Linked DNA regions of Homo sapiens: region 1 is linked to region 2. A link means that fine-mapping ties the variant in region 2 to the expression of a gene that starts in the linked region. Tissue or cell type: testis. Region 2 holds a variant in brackets; the other region holds the start of a gene. All regions are shown on one strand. Distances are between the middles of the regions.

What was found. PIP is the estimated chance that this variant, and not a neighbour inherited with it, causes the effect.
Region 1: WNT11 starts here. The variant in region 2 is fine-mapped to the expression of WNT11 in testis (GTEx, PIP above 0.99). The same link has a PIP of 0.9 or more in adrenal gland.

What each region holds. Positions count from the first base shown.
Region 1 is chr11:76,202,844-76,210,843 of GRCh38, forward strand. It overlaps WNT11 (Wnt family member 11), which reads right to left and starts at 3,659. Exons shown (of 5, transcript NM_004626.3): 1 at 3,482-3,659. The coding sequence starts at 3,564. It overlaps LOC112268079 (a long non-coding RNA gene), which reads left to right and starts at 6,984. Exons shown (of 2, transcript XR_002957259.1): 1 at 6,984-7,076; 2 at 7,422-8,000. RefSeq lists silencers at 3,572-3,811, 4,792-5,011, 7,664-7,833 and enhancers at 4,116-4,783, 6,118-6,784, 6,403-6,452, 6,785-7,451.
Region 2 is chr11:76,273,415-76,281,670 of GRCh38, forward strand. No RefSeq gene overlaps it. Among named protein-coding and RNA genes, the nearest start is that of TRP-TGG2-1, 42 kb to the left of the region's middle. The variant A/G (reference allele first, on the strand shown) is at 4,209.

The sequences.
Region 1 (8,000 bases), 71 kb before region 2:
TAGAGAAATGGAGGCTGATGAAGGGCCTTGAGCCTGCAGATCCAGTCCTGCCTGGAAATGACACTGGGTCCCCTTCACACCTGACTGCCCAGACCTCAGAGATGGAAGCCTGTCCCCTTGGCCTCACACATGCTGACCCACCTGTGCAGCCCATCTTGCAAAGGTAAAGCCCTAACAGGCCTTGGTCTGATGCTTCTCAACCAAGAAACCAAACGGCAGCTGCCACAGCATCATGAACTCCCACTGTGCAAGTGGGGAAACTGAGGCCCGGAAAGGGCAGGGCTTGCCCAGATCTGTACGCAGCCAATCAGAGGCAGAGACAAGCTAGACCCCAGGCCTCCTGCATCCTGAGGTAGGGCTCCTTCTACCTCTATCTTAGAGCTGAGGAAACTGAGGCTCAGAGAAGCTAAAGCGATTGACCTGCAGAACTCAGGCTGGGCCTTGCAGTCCCAGTCTGGCGCTCCTTCCACCCTACTCTGCAGCGCCATGGCCCTCTAGAGCCTCCTGGCCCCACCTCCGTGGGAGTGGCAGGTGTGGGACTGCCCAGGGAAGGGGGCGGCCTTTATGGATGTTCCCAACCGGCCTGGGCCTTTCCTCTCACCCCACCGCTTCCGTGGTTCACAGGAGAGTGGGACTCCCCTCAAACCCTCCCCCTACCCAGGAAAGCCAAGAAGGGGGTGGACAGCCCAGACCTGGGACCCCGAATACTTGAGGGGCTGGGAGTCTTCTGGTGCCTGGCCTGGGTGGAGGTAAGGTAGGGAAGGATCCCCAGGTTATTTCTGGGCAGGTGCCTCTATGGGCAGCCAGGTTCTGATCCCCTCTCCCCAGCCCCCATCCCACCAGCTCAGCCTGCGTCCCAGGCACCCACCAGGTGAGCATTCCAGGCCACTGGGCCATGTTGGCTTTCAGTTCCTGTGCCAAGTGCCCCTTTCATCTCCAGCTCACTCTCCAAAGCCCAGGCCAGCGGAGGCTCCTGGGTGAGTCCCCGGCTTTCCAGCCTCACTGAACACTTCCCTGCTCCCAGCTGTGCTGGGGCTCCCTGTGCCCAACAGTCCACAGAGCTAGGCAGCTTAACTCAAATCCTGCCTCTACTACCTCTGAGCTGTGACACCCTGCTAGGTAGAGTCCCCCATCTCTGTGTGCCCCAGTCTCTGTTTCCTCTTCTGTGCAACGGGGGTAATAGCAGCACCCACCTCACAGGGTGGTTGGGATATTTAAATGGAACAATATACATAAGGCACTTAGAACGGCACCTAGCACAAAGTGAGGCCATGTGTGTGTAGACATATATGTACATATACATAGATATATGCACGTGGCCTACACACGTGTATCTATATATACACATGCATACACAGATCGTTGTTATTCTTAAACTCCACCCCTTTTCCCACCTCCCCCTCTATCTTAAACTCTAGCAAGACTTTAATCCCCTATTGCTAGACTATCAGTTTCTCATAGGAGTGCAGTATGATCTAACTTACATGACCCAAGCTCTCGGAGCAGCGTCTGGGGCACTTAGGAGTAGGCTCTTGTGGTGCCTGGTTTCTCCAGGTCTCCCCGCATGCGCTGTTCGGCCTCCAGGCTTCTGCTCGTGCTGTGCCTCCCGCCTAGGACGCCTGCTTTGCACTCCGTCTCTGACCATCCAAATCCTCCCTGTCCTTCCAATCCTGGCCTATGCATCTCCCTTAGATAGAACTGATCACTCCTCCTCTGGGCTGCCATGCTCCCTCTGCTAGGACACAGACCATAGTCCACTTTGTATTTCTATATGTCCATCTCCCCCAAGAGCCTGGGGGCTTATTTAAGGCACACAATGAGTTGTACCCATTTCTGTGGCAGCCTGACTTTGCAGTGGGGACAGAGGACATGGACGTCAGGTTTAGCCAGCCGTCCATCCCACCACAGGCCAGCGTGGGGGCTTGCGTGCATCATGCCCTTTGCAGGGTCTCGGTGTTCCCACTGTGGAGCAGGGATGATGGCAGTGACCCCACAGGACTCTTATGGGCGGCAAATGACACCCAAGCCCACTGCAAGGCCTCTGACGCTCCTTCAGCCAATCCTCTCCTTCCCTGGACCTTAGTATCCTTATCTGTAAAATGGTGGCGGTGGATGAGAGAGCTTGGACTCGCTGATCGGAGGTCCCTGCCAGCTGGAACAGTGCTGGGTACCCCATTGCAAAAGGAAGGTGGCTGGTTTCTCACAGAACTCCTCAGGGACAGCTGGGAAAAGCTAGTGCCCAGGGCTGGGAGATTGCTGAGACCAGGCTTCTTGTAAACAAGAAAGGCAGGAAGACGGGGTTCCCTCCTCGAATCGTCAATTAATCAATAACTTGGCCTGAGAAGGGGCAGGGCCAGTGACCTCCAGACTGTTTGCTGGCGGCGCAGCCACTATCACCCTGTCTTCCAACTAATTCACAAACCCTTTGCAGCGCCCTCCCCAGCCCCCACAACCTGCCCCCTGCTGTCTTATCTGCAGGCTCCCTGCCCTGGCCCCAGATTCCAGACCCTTGTCCTGTCCTGGACTTTCCCTCTCAGGGAGCCCCTCTGCCCACAGCGTCCTCTCCATTGCCCGAACCAGCCAACTCCCAGCAGCGCTTCAGTCACCAGAGGCACAGCCTCGGAAAAGCTTCCCGGTGTCTCACATCTGTGTCCCCACCAGGTGGGCTTCCTTCCTCTAGGCCTCCAGATTCCCGCTCTGGTTTCTCCTCGGGCACTTGGACACTTGTGGAGTTATTTACAGCCTGGGCTTATCTCTCTCAACTTAGAGCGCAGCTCCTCCGGGAAGGGGCTGGTGTTTACTCCTCTCTTCACCACCCCCAGCCCCCTGAGCAGGCACTCCCTTCAGCTCGGCACCAAGCCTCTCTCTCCCTCCTACCCCTGCGTGAATAATTTCTATCTAAAGGAATGCCCTGCACATGTGCACAGTGGCATCTGACAGCTTCTGAGGTCCTTTCAGGAGCCTCTTCTCATCTGATTTGAGGGAGGTGGGGAGTCTCACCCTCCCGTGACAGAGGAGGACAAGGAGGCCCCAAGAAGTAGAGTGACACTTTCCCAAGGTCGCCCAGGTGGAGGGGTCAGGAGTGTCTCAGCGGAACTCCCGCTAGGGTCAAGGAGACTGACGGACAAGGACCGCTCCTGGGCTGGCCGCTCTGGATTGCGCCCCCTGAACAGAATGTCTTTTTCCATCTGCCCCTGCGGAGGTGGCCAGAAACTCCGTGGCCCTTGCGCCACCGTCAGCTGCACAGGACCAGGCGCTTCCATTGTGGTCCACGCCCGTCTCACTCCCTTTTCGCAAGCCTGCGGGAGGCAGGGACATTTTACAGAGGAGGAAACAGAGGCTGAGGGATGACTTGCCCACGACCGCCAAGCCAGCTTAGGCTCCCGGGTCTTGGTGCGCTCGCCCCATCCAGGGGACCCCAAAACGCCCTCCGCCGCCCCAGTCCCTGGCCTGTGCGCGTGGACGCGGGGTCCCTACTCACAGCCACTTGATGCCATAGCACACGCCGGTCTGGAGCGCCAGGGCGAAGAGCAGCGCCTCGCAGACCTGCGGCCGCGCCCTCATCGTCGCGCGGCGGGCGCGCCCGGGGTCACACCCAGGAGGAGCCGCGCCGAAGTCCTCCGCCTGCACGGCCGCCGCTGGTCCTGCACGCCGCCTGCAGCCGGGGAGAGCGGAGGCGGCGGGTTAAGGCGGCGCGCGGGCGGGGGAGGCGTTTTATTCAAATTACAAAGGAGGGGTCGGGGCCCGGGGAGGCCGAGCGCGGCGGGCGTCCCCTCCCGCTCCGCCCGGCCGGGGGACGCGTCCCGCGCCTGGCTCGAATTAGGCGCGGCCGAAGGCGTGTCTCCCAGCGTGGCCCCGGGCCCCAACGCGCCTTCGAGCCCCTCTGGCCGGGGCAGCCGGAAGGAGGGACAGGAGGCGGCAGAACCGGAGACCCAGGAGAGACCGGGCAGACACAGCGAGAGGGAGAAGGACGCTCAGAGGACAAGGCTGAGAGCCACGGAGACAGAGGGGGAAACCCGGACAGACGCAACCTGGGACGGAAAGGAGAGGAATGAGGAATCAGGAGTCCAGGCGAGGCAGCAGAGTCGAGGACCCGGAGCTGGGGCTTATCCCTGCAATATTGAGCATTAGTTAATAGGGCCTCGGCAATTCTCCTTCCCAAACGTGTTTCAGTTTACCTCCTCAGTAAGCTGGGGCAATTCGGGCACAATTCCGCTTTTATAAAGAACGTTCCCTGGCCGGGCAGGGTGGCTCACGCCTGTAATCCCAGCACTTTGGGAGGTCGAGGCGGGCGGGTCACCTGAGGTCAGGAGCTCGAGACCAGCCTGCCCAACATGGCAAAACCCCGTCTCTACTACGAATACAAAAAATTAGCCGGGCGTGGTGGCGGGCGCCTGTAATCCCAGCTACTCGGGAGGCTGAGGCAGGAGAACCGCTTGAACCCGGGAGGCGGAGGTTGCAGCGAGCGGAGATTGCGCCACTGCACTCTAGCCTGGGCGACAAGAGCGAAACTCCGTCTCAAACAAACAGACAAACAAAAAAAGTTCCCTAACACGATCGCATCTGCTCCTCCCAGCACCCCGTGAGATAGGCACTATCGCTGCCTCATCTCACAGATGAGGAAACTGAGGCACAGAGGTGGGGTTCAGCTAGGGAGCGGCAAGCCGGGTGTCCGGCGAAATCAGGAAATGGGGCTTGCTCGGGGCCCTGCTTTCTCGGTGTGGGAAGGGGAGGATGGGAAACGGGATGGTAGGGCTCTTTGTACAGTGAGGATTCCGAGTCTCCAAGTCCGTCTTTAGCCGCTCCACTTTGGAGGGTGGGAGTGGAAGCATGCGGGCTGGGACTGGGCAGCCCCGCCTTAGCGAAGCGGGGAAGCTCGCGGGGCTGGCGCGGTGTTGCCTCTGGCCTCCAGGCGGCGCCCTCGGGCCGCGGAGGAGAGGCTGCCCCGCCCGCCCGCAGCCCGCGGAGCAGCTATCTCCGCTTTTTTTCTCCTTCACTTCATTCTCACCTCATTAACTCCCTTCCCAGCTTCTCCCAAATTTACCAACACCTGGCGTTCGCCCGGAGTCAGACACAGCCCCAGCCCCTCTCCCCTCGGGAGGAGCAGAGACAAAGGGATTCCTTTCTAAGGGTTTGGGGAGTTGGAAAAGGAGGCGCCCACGGTAGTGGGGGCGCTGGAGCAGAAAAGGGACGTTCTTATCTGGCTCTGTGAGCTTGGGCAAGCCCTCAGCCACCCCAGCCTCGGTGTCCCCTTCCATAAGAACGAGGAATGGGGCTTCGCCGTGCGTCCCCCGAGGACCCCGTCTCCCTGCAGCCTGCGGGGCTCAGCGCCCCTCTGCTATTTGCACCGCGACGCCACCTGCGTGGCGCGTTCCTGCGCGTGGGTAGTCAGCACGCAGAGATGGGAAGCCCCACTGTTTTCTGGAGCCTGTCGGCAAAACCCACAGGAAGGCGAGGAGAAGCCTGGATCGTACAGTTTTTTTCCTCCGCAGAGCCCCGCAGCTAGCGCCCAGCACAGGGGCGCCTGCGACAAACATGCCGTCAAGGCTGGGGGTCTCAGAGGGGTTCTCGGTGTAACCCAGTCCCGTCCTCCCACCCAGCCTGTATCCAAATCCTTTGTCTTCCTGGTCCTGCAAGTTTCTTGCACTTCTCAGAACGAGAAAAATATCCGCTGGATATGGAGGGGGGAATCAAAACTCCAGTCACCGTCTTCCCCTCTCCCAAAGTGCGCCGCCCCCCGAAGGCACCCGGCATTCCTGGGTGGGGAGGGGGCGGGGGCTGCAAGAGGACGGAGGCGCGCGGACTCACAGCGGGGGATCTGTGTCCAGCCTGGTCTCCCAGGGAGAGGAGGAGCCCCCTAGGTCGCACAGCGGACGGGGACCCAGGCCTCCAGCCCCGCCCAGCTCTTTCGGTGCAGCCCCGGCTGTCCCAAGGCTCTCCCTCCGCCGCCCAAGCTCGTCGCGCGGGGAGGCAGCGCCTGGCCCGAGCCTCTGGGTCCTGACGGACTGTTCCTGTCCCTTGTACGAGCGCCCGGGACAGCCGCGCAGGCCACGGGGTCACCTTCCGCCTGAGCTCGCGGGTCAGGGTGCACGCGCCTCCTGAAGCCCCCAGCCCGCCAGGGGGCGCTAAGCCGGGGCTCGAGGAGGGGGGAATCGCGGCTGCCTCCTGCGTCGCGGGCTGGGGTCAAGTCCTCTTCCTGGGCCCCCGCTTCTCCGTCTGGGGATGGGACGACGTGTCGAGGGAGTGCCCCCTGTGTCCTGGTCGTTCTATAGGACACTTGCCGTGGGCCGCCCTGACCTGCCCGGCCCCTTGCTTGGGGCCGGGCGCGTAGTGGGCCGCGCCAGGCGTAGCACCTTTGGAGAGCGAGCGGTCACCTCCTCGAAGTTGGTCCGAGCTACCCTGCCTGCAGCGGGCCCGGGAGGCGGCCGCCTGGGGCTGTGCACAGGGAGAACACCACGAGCGCAGCGCCGCAGCCCAGCGCCGCCAACAGATGGTCATAGGCCCGGTCTGTGGAGGACTCTGGAAAGCCGGCCGCTGGGACCAGGCCACGCCGGCCCGGCGAGGACTTGCGGGGTCCCCCCTACCCCGACGCCCCACGGGCACCGTGCACCGGGGCCGATTGTCCGCGCGGCGCGCAAGGTCGGCACGGGCGGGTCCCGAAGCCTCCCGCCACGCAGCTCACGGAGCTGACCCCGCCAACCAGGGACGCCGAGCGACGGCTTCAAGGTTACCTGCGGGGCGGGGCGAGGCCGGGCCTGCCACCCGGCTTTGACCCCAGCCGTGAGGCTTTCGAGAGACGTCTGCTTGGCTGCGCACGCGGCGCCGGGTCACCCGGGAGACGGGTTGTTTTGGAAGTGGGAAGGGTGGGTGGGAGCACTCGAGATCCCTCCTGCTAACCCCCTGGAGCCGGACCCTGCACGCCCAGGGCCTTGAGGGACACCGAGGCACTTCAGCCCCGGGGGTGGGAGGCGTGGAGCTCGTGCGCGAGCTCAGCCAGATGTTCCGGGCGGTTGCAGATGTGCCTCGGGGCCGGGGACAGGACTTTCCTCCTCCCTAGCCCCCAGCCTGGAGCTCAGGTCAGTAAACAAACTCGGTTCTCCCCCTCCCCCCGCCGCCCCTGGGACCCGTTCTCAAAGCCAGGCTTCTGCCCCCATCCCCAATTTACTAGGCGCTGCCGCATTTCTTTGCCTTTTGCCACCCTTTCCCCCCGCCCACCACACACACCCTCTGTCGCGGGATCCAAGTCCCCCACCCCCGGGGGTGGCTCGGGCATGACCTCATCCGCCGAACGACTGGGAAGGAGGGGGTCGCCTGGGGTGCGGGGGCAGAAGAGGGGGGCCGGGCCGGGAAAGTTCGAGGAGGGCCGCAGGAACTGCACAACCCACCACCGTCCCGCGTGCCCCTAAACCCCGCGTCCCCAGGCTCCCGAGGCTTCGCTCCGCAAAGGGGAACTCTTCGGAGTGCTGCGGGGGAAAGGTATGGAGGAGCGCTTGGTTTGCTTACCCGGGAGTGGGTGCCCAAGGGGGTCGTGGCGGGTGCGAGAAGCGTCGTCCCCCTCGGACTCGGGCGCCCCCAGCCCTGGCGGGTCCCCGCTGAGCGGCTGCCCGCTGCCCGCGACCACTGCTCACCTCCCGGGGCGCTCGCCAGGCGCGCCCTGCGTGCCCGGGTGCCCCGGCCTGCCCAGGGAGCGGCGAGTGCGGTTTCCAGCGGGCCCGTGCGCACTCCGGCTGGGCGAGCGGCGAAGGCGCCCTCTTCGTGAAGCGGCGCGAGAAGGACGCCGGGGATCCTGGCAAGCTGCGGCCGGCTCAGGACCCGCGCGGAGTCAGGCGCGGACTCCGGCTGCTCTCTGCTGCGCTCAGCTCCCGTGGCCTGTGCTCGCCGCTCGCCCGAGCTCTCCTCCTCGCCTGGCGCGATCTCCGGCGCGAGCCTCCCAAACTGCTTTATAAGGCGGGCGGCCGCTTTGATCCGCCCACGTCAGCGCGTCGCAACCCCACCGGGTG
Region 2 (8,256 bases):
GGCTCACGCCTGTAATCGCAGCACTTTGGGAGGCTGAGGCAGGCAGATCACTTGAGGTCAGGAGTTTGAAACCAGCCTGGCCAACATGATGAAACCCCATCTCTACTAAAAATACAAAAAAAAAAAAAAAAAAAAAAAGAAGCTGGGCATGGTGGCACCCACCTATAATCCTAGCTACTTGGGAGTCTGAGGCAGGAGAACTGCTTGAACCCAGGAGGCGGAGGTTTCAGTGAGCTGAGATTGTGCTACTGCACTCCAGCCTGGGTGACAGAGCAAGACTCTGTCTCAAAAAATAAAATAAACAAAAAATAAACGACAGAGTGCTAAAGCATATGATTTATAATCAACAATCTCATTGCCACATAAAGTGACAAAAATTGGCTTAGTCAAAAAAACAAAGAAGGAAAAGAAAAATATTAAGTCATCTAACTGCAAAGTCCAAGGGCATGAGAGTTTCAGGCATGGCTTTATCTAGGGGCTCAAATTCTGCCCCCAGGACCTGCTCGCTCCATCTCTCGGTTCTCCTGGTTCCCATGTTGGCTTCATTTTTAGGCTCCAAGTGGTGAAAAGATAACTATAAAATTAACTTCCAGGTTCAGGTCCAGCCAAAAAAAATTTTGTTAAGAGTCCTCCTTTGTCAGTAGACCCAGCAAGCATTCAAATATGTAACCCATTGCTTCTAACGGGTCGTGAGTCCATCTGTGAACAAGTCCTTGTGGCCAGGAATATGTGAAGCTCTGACTGACGGGGCCTATGTCTCACGGCCAGCTCTGGAGCTCTGGAGTTGGGGGTGGGGACAACACTATCTGAAATATAGGAGCCAATGAGTAGGGAAGAGTGGATGAGAGGAATAATTACCTTAGAGCAAAAGCAGAGTCCTGCCACCAGAATAAAAGGGGAAAGGATGTTGAGGACAAGATAATAACTGCCCACACAGTCCACCCCTTTGAGGGCTGACATTTATGCATGCCTTTACTTGCACACAAAATAATACCTTCCCACTTCCTCCCCTCTCTCAAATAGAAGACAAATCAGAGACTCATAATACTGAGTTCAGAATCTCTGGGTGACTTATATTATTTTCCTTCAGAGTTAGATGTATTCTTGAGGTCTTGCAATCTGTGGCTGAAAGATTATCCCTCCAACAGACCATGACTCCATAATGGCAGAGAGAATTGGGTAACTGCAATAACAATTCCTACTGAAAAGGGAGAAGAAAGGAAAGCAGCACACGGCGCTACCAGTCCACAGCATTCACCAGTTCCTGATGAACAGGGACAGCAAAGTCTTCCTGTCCTGGGTGGAGAAATGAGTTACTTGAATGGAGTGGTAGGCAGAATATGCTCCCCACCCGAAAGATGTCCACAGCCTGATCCCTGGAGCCTGTGCCTATGTTATGTTAAATGGCAAAGGGGAATTAAGATCACAGACGGAAATCGGGTGCTAGTCTGCTGACCTTAAAATCAGGAGATAATGCTGGATTACCTGGTGTGCCACTGTAAGCACAGCGTCCTTGAAAGTGAAAGAGGAGGCAGCAGAAGAGTCTGTGTCTGAGTGATGGGAGGCAGGAAAGACTCAATCAGCCATCGCTGACTTTGAGGAGGGAAGGGGGCCACTAGCCAAGGAGTGCGGGCAGCCTCTAGAAGCTGGGAAAGGCAAGAGAACAGGATCTCCCCAGAGCCTCTGTAAAGGAGCGCAGTTCTGACACTCTGATGCTAGCCCAATAAAGTACATTTTGGACTTCTGTCCTATGGAATTGTAGGGTAATACATTTGTGTTAAGTCCTTGAGTTTGTGGGAATTTGTTACAGTGACCATAGTGAGACAGCGACACAGCAAATCCCACTACCACGATACTCCTTTTGTTCCCACTGTTATGCCTCCGGCTGGGAATGGAACAGACACTGCCACTTTTGGTCCCCCTAACAATCTTGGGAGAAGGTGTAATCATCCTTAGGTTACGGATGAGAAAACAGAGGCTCAGGTAACAGACAACTGCTAAAGGCAACCAGTTAGTGGAAGAGGGAGCCAACAGGCAAACCCTCGCCTGTCTGACTTGGAGCCGGGCTGGGGTCCTCATATAACTTCCTCGCCCAGTGGTCCTCTTATCTCTGCTGAAACCCTCCAGCCACAGAGGCTCACACCTTGCAAAGCCCCAGGCCTCCCTGCTCCCTCCTGGCCTCATGCCTTGCATGACCTGATGGATGGTGGCTAGAATAGCCAGTGGAGGGCGGCCAGAATGTCAGACTCTGGCCAGTCAGCGGGCAATGAATCCAGGACACAGTTGCCTTGTTGGTGGGCCCAGGCTGAGCATCCCTACTCACGGGGAGCAGGTTCTGTTTATCAAAATCTAGACTTCTGCCCTCCTCTCCTGCCTCCAGCCTCCACGCTCCCCTTGGCTGAACTGGGTTTTGGAATGCATTGCTTTGTACTAAATGGAGAAAATGTGGAACCTTGTCTTTCAAGATTTATTCTTCTCTGTGCTGTCACCTCCACTCCTGTCTAATCCTGGAATGTCCCCGGGGTGGGTGAGGTGAGGGAGGGCAGCTATGGCTCCTCCGATTTCTTCCTGACAAATGTAAAATGGGCCAGGGGGGCCACAGGGGAGGTAAATCGATCCCAAAAAGTGCCTTGTGTGCAATTTGGGGATGAGAGAAAGTTCATGTAGAGATAGGGCTCCGAGGATGCACCCCCAGGGGCTGGCCTGGCCAGCTGATGACCAAAAACAACTGCCTCCCTCCTCCCCAACACACGCAACCCACACACAGGCCCAGGCTTACACCCCCCAACTGAGTGGGAACAGTCAAGATCCCAGAGGCCAGACCACAAAACCTAAACACAGACTCCAGAGGGCAGATGAGACCCAGGGGAACGTCTCCTCTGACCTCTTCATTGGCCTAGAGAAGGGAGGTGCCTTGCCTAAGGTCACATGGCAAAGCCGGGACTACCGCCTCATCAAGCCTCAGTTTCCCAGGGGTAAAATGCAGGCCTGATGAGAAGCTCAAGTGAGGCAGAAATTGCTAAGTGAATGTGACAGGGAAGTAATTACAGCCCAGCAAGGATTGGGAGCAGTTTTCTTTCTTAATGCTGTGAAACTGAGGCTCGGAGAGGAACTTTTTCAAGATCACACAGCTGGCAAGTGGCAAAGCTGAACTTCGGACTGGCTCTGTCTGACTTCAGAGCCCACGGGTGCTACCTTTCACCACATTGTCATGTCACATGTCAGCATCACAGTGACCCTTTCTATACCTGAAATCTCTTCCAATTTCCTGAACCCAAGACCCAAGGGAGTGACTGGGAGGCCTGGGAGGCTCTGGGGAGATGTGTGAGTCTGAACAAAGGTCAGACCCCGGCTTGACTGCAGTCCCCAACCCCCCAGTTGGTCCTGTGTGCCAGGTATACCCTGAAGGCCTGCAGACAGCCCTGGCAGGGGGTCTCTGGGTAGGCAGGGGGGACATCACACACTGTGGGCTTGGACCTGTGGGGATGTCCTTCTTGGCCCACCTGGGCATTTCATGTCCCTGCATCTGTCCGGGGCTTGAGGGGCTCCTTCGGGTGCAGGCCCTGAACAGGGTCCTCAGGTGCTGGGCACACACAAGGGGTCACTCAAGCACTCAGCAAATGCCTGGCAGGCCCTGTCCTGGGTTCCGGGTAGAGACCATCAGACCCAGTCCTTTCCCTAGAGCAGTCCCTGAGCAAGTGCAGGAGAGGCGGGAAGAGATAAATGACAGAAGGGGAGCTGGCACCTTCGCACATCCACCAAAGCCACCCCTTCCTGCAAGCACAACGTTGTCTTAAAAAATACACAAATTCCTGTTGACAGTCTCGGGCCAGGTGGCCCCCAGAGTGGTGCAGGGTCAACCAGCACGGCAGCACGGCCCCGTGCACCCCAGGTCTTCAGGCCAAAACCTGAATGAAGGGCTCTTTGACTCCAAAGCTGTGCCTTCCTCACAGCTCCACAGGAGGCCTGGCTGCCTCCACTGCAGCCCACACCCTCTCCTGTGCTCGCTGCTCCCACACCCAGGCGGCTTCCTGTCCAGGCCTTCTTGCCTCTTCTGCATAGGCAGGGGCTAGATGGGAGACCCCGCGGCCCCCGCCTGCCTGGGACGGTCTGGCGTGAGTGTATGCAGAGCTGGCCCTCGAGCCAGGGCAATGGTCCTTGAAGCGCACGTCAATGTGACGTGACCACAGGGGTCACTTGGAAAGGGC[A/G]GGACAAATGGGTCATGGGAGAGAACAGGAGCATAGCAGGAGCCCCTCCCATCCGCACAGTGGTTTGCCCCTTACAAATCCTGTTTCCACACTGTGGCTCCCTGAAAGAGCCACTACAAAAGAATGGGTGAAGCGAGGCAGGCTCAGAGAGCTCAAGTCACTTGTCCAAGGTCACACAGCCACACCACAGCCCTGCTGACCCTGCCTGTCAGCCTGCCCCTCCATCCCAGGCCTCCTTCACCACCCGCAGCCCCTCTCTGGCTCGCATGGGTGGGCTCAGGGAGGCAGGGGCTGGGCTCTGTGGCTGGGCCCCGCCATGTGCATTGAGGCATTGGAGTTGGCAATGACGATGGAGCTGCCAGAGCTGCTGTCTGCCGGGAGGAGGTCACGGTCTGCAGACGCCACGGTCTGTTGGCTTTGCGAGCAGGATGAACTGGGGAGGCCCACCTGGCCCTGGGTAGGTTGGGGTGCTCTCAGCAGAGCCAGGGGAGACGGCAGCTCCGCCAGGGCCCTCTTGTTTCCCTGCTTCCTGCTGGAGTGCGGGGGCAAATAGCCCATCCAAGCCTCCTTTGCAGGGCAAGTGAGTGGGTGATGCACTAGGTGAGGGGTGCACTGCAAGAGACCGGGGGACCTCAGGCCAAGGGCAGCATTACCCAGCCCCCTTGGAAGCCCAGCAATTACCTAAGCATGGGCACTCTGGAGCCACGCTTCTGGGTTCAAATCCCAGACACCTGTGTGTGACTGTGGGCAAGGTCACCTTCACCTCTCTGTCCCAGCTGCCCCATCTGTGTGATTACACTAATACCAATGTTTACCTTATAGGGTTGTTATGATAATACTGACCCTCATAACCAGCAAGTCAGGCAAGGGCCGGGACACAAACGTAGGATCCCTTTCAACAAAGGCACAGCGTATGCATGAGAAAGACTACCCTAGAATTGCTTCAAAAGCCTCTTCCCCTCTCCAGGCCTCAGTCTTTCTGTCTGAAGAGTGGGTGGGTCAGCCTACTAGGTCTCCAAGTCCCTGAGAGGTTAGCCACCCGATGCCCTGTGCCCCCTTGAGCACTGATGGAGGATGGAGAGGCAGCGGGATTAGGCAAGTGACCAGCAGGTCTAGGGCTGAGGACAGTGTGTCCTCTCCACTCTAAGGACACTGGGAGTGGTGGCAGAGGAGGGGATGCCCTTTTGGGGGTGTGGAAGACCATGTCCCCCATCTCACTCGCCCAGCTGACTAAGGCCAGGCCCTTCAGGCAATAGGGACAGGAACAGGATTGGGGCACCCCAAACTGCTCCCCAAATCAACTTCCTTTTGTTAAAAAAATGGCAAAATCTTTCTGGTGTGGATTGACAAAAATTACAGAGCCATTTAGGACCAGACAGAGGTAGATTCCCAACCCGCCTCTTCCACATAATGCTGTGTAACTTGGGTGAGACACTCAACCTCTCTCTGTCTCCAATTCCTCAACTGTAAAATGGGGCTTATAGTCCCTCCTTCACAAGGGGGTGACAGGTGGGAGAGCTCCCTAACCAGAGCGGGTGCTCAGAAGATGCTGGGCCGCTGGGTCCTTCCCACCTTCTTTTGTTGATTCAATCCAACTACCTTGATGCCACCTAAAGTGGACTAGGCCCTGTCGTGGGCTGAGGACCCACATAGACCAGCGTCACTCCTGCTTTCAACCAGCTCAAGGGTCCCAGGAGAAGTCAATGCTGTGACCAAAATGTTGAGATGAGTGAAGACTTCACGCTGGAGGTGGAGGCAACTGGATGTTTTACCATGATTGTTGAAGTCAGATGATTCAGACACGGGGTTTATGACACTATTCTATATGATGTTGTAAGTTTTTCATGAATCACCTAAAATCATCTCAAATTCTATCTTCCATATGTAATAGTCTCAACAACCAGACGTCAGGAAGCATTGGAGGATCTGTCTAACTTTGCCTCCTCTGGACAAGGTCCAGTTTGTCCATGGAGCCCAGAGCAGGCCGTTCTCCAAAGTAGAACATTCCTTCCATGTCCAGCTTTGGAGAAATGTAGGGTCCTGGCCCCCACATTTCTGGTGATGCAGCCAGAGATGATAATGGTGTCCTTTGCAGCCTGCCGCTGTTGGCTCATGGCCACTCTCCCCTCTGCTCCTATCCTGGGTGGCCTGCAGGTGGGCTGAACCACAGGCGGCAAATATTTGCTGACCGAGGGAACGTATTGTCATTGAATACCACTCAGCAGGTGTCTGCATGTGAGGGGGTGAAACAGGGGGCAGTGGCTGGGGAAGGAATTGCCTGAAGCTTCACACCTGTGGGGAGGCCCAGACGGTGGGTGACCCAGCCCCAACCCTGGTCAAGTTCAAAGGCTGAGGGAGAAGACAGGGGCCAGATCGGATGCTTGAACAACAGGGCGCAAGAAGTAAAGATGTCATCAAAGGCTGAGGTGACAGCTCTGCAGTTGCGCTGAGCCAGAAAGAGCTGGGCACGAGAAGACAGGTCAGGTCCCCACAGCAGAGTGAGGGCAGGGCACCAGCAGCTCCTGGGGTAGCCCACATATTCAGAGACACCCCCTCGCAAGGAGAGGGCAGGGTTAAACATGAGTGGCCAGGTGGAGTGTGGCATATGAGCATCAGGACCCCATAGAGACCCAGATCTACCCTCGAATGTGTGCAGCCTCACAGGGCACTCCTGCAGGTGGAGATAGCAGTAACACCCCCTTGAGATGTTCAGGGCGGAGTTGATGATGGGCTGACACTGTGGGTGGGCGCTCGGTGGAGAGGGACTCGCCTGCCTCTAAATCAGGTCCAGCCCTCAGCTCCAGGGCTGCTCCTAGTGAAGCTGGCCCTGCCCACCACTTGTTAAAAAATATTCCGAATAATACTCAGCTGCATCTTGTCAAGCATCTGCTAGGTGTCCGACAGTTGCTAAGTGCTTCATAGGCCCTAACACGGGATCCTCACGAAACTGCATGGAATAAGTGCTACCACTTCCTCCCTTTCCAGGCAAGGACACTAAGGCTGGGGAGCTGAGGAGACTGCCTGAGTTGCGAAGCCAACATTCGACAGACGACTTCGGGGACCACCAGCCAGGCTGCAGGGCCCTGCTAGTCCTGCGGCCATTCCTTCCTGCAGCTTGCCACCTAGGCCACTCGGCTGGCCCAGAACCACCTGCTGCCTTCTGTTGTCCTTAGAACAGGGAACAGTGGGGTTCCTTAGAACAGACTCCTGGGGTGCCCACTGGTCCTGTGGGCAGAGAGAGACTCTGACCACTACCTTAGGTCTCCCATTCCCAGTAGGGAGAGACTTGGTGGCCTCATGCCCTGTGGAGAGATGAGGGCCTGGGTGGGGGGAGTGAGAATTCGGCCATTGTTGGGCAGGGGTCCTCAGAGCAGCCACGAGTCCAGAGCTCAGAGGGGAACTCACCCAGCTTGCCATGCCAGGGGCTGCCGAGGACCCCGGCCTCCTGCTCCCAGCCAGGTTCTGGCCACGTCGTGGAAGAAGGGGAGGCAGGGAGCAGGAACAGCCAGGTCTCCCCCGATGGGGCCAAGGCATTGGAACCTCCCTGCTCACTGTCTGGGGTGGGGGTTGAAGAAACAGCACAAGGGCCTGGAAACTTGGGACCTGTGGAGTGGTCTTGGGCAAGCCCCTTACCCTTTCAGAACCTCCGTTTCTGCCCAGTTGACCCACTGGCTGAAGTGTCCAGCGAGACAATGTGTGCGAGTGTCCTCGGTGGTCCCCTGCCTAAGCTTTCTACCACTGCTCTTGCTACATGACCTCAGGGCACCTGTGTGGCTGTCCTGGCTGGGCTCCAGGCGGGAGCGGAGCTGTGGTCTGCTCAGATAAGGAGCCCCCCGGCTCCCAAACAGGATGGTAGCAGCCCCACTGTGTGATTTTAGGAACCATCATAGCAGTCAGGCAAACCAGGAAAATAATACTAACCCGGCCAGCTCCTTCCTGCTGCCAGAAATCACAGACGGGAAAGTGCAGGGGCCATGGTGGGCGAGGGTGCTGGGGAAGCCAGGTGCCCTTGAGCCCGCCTGCCATGGGACTCTGTGGGATGTTTCTG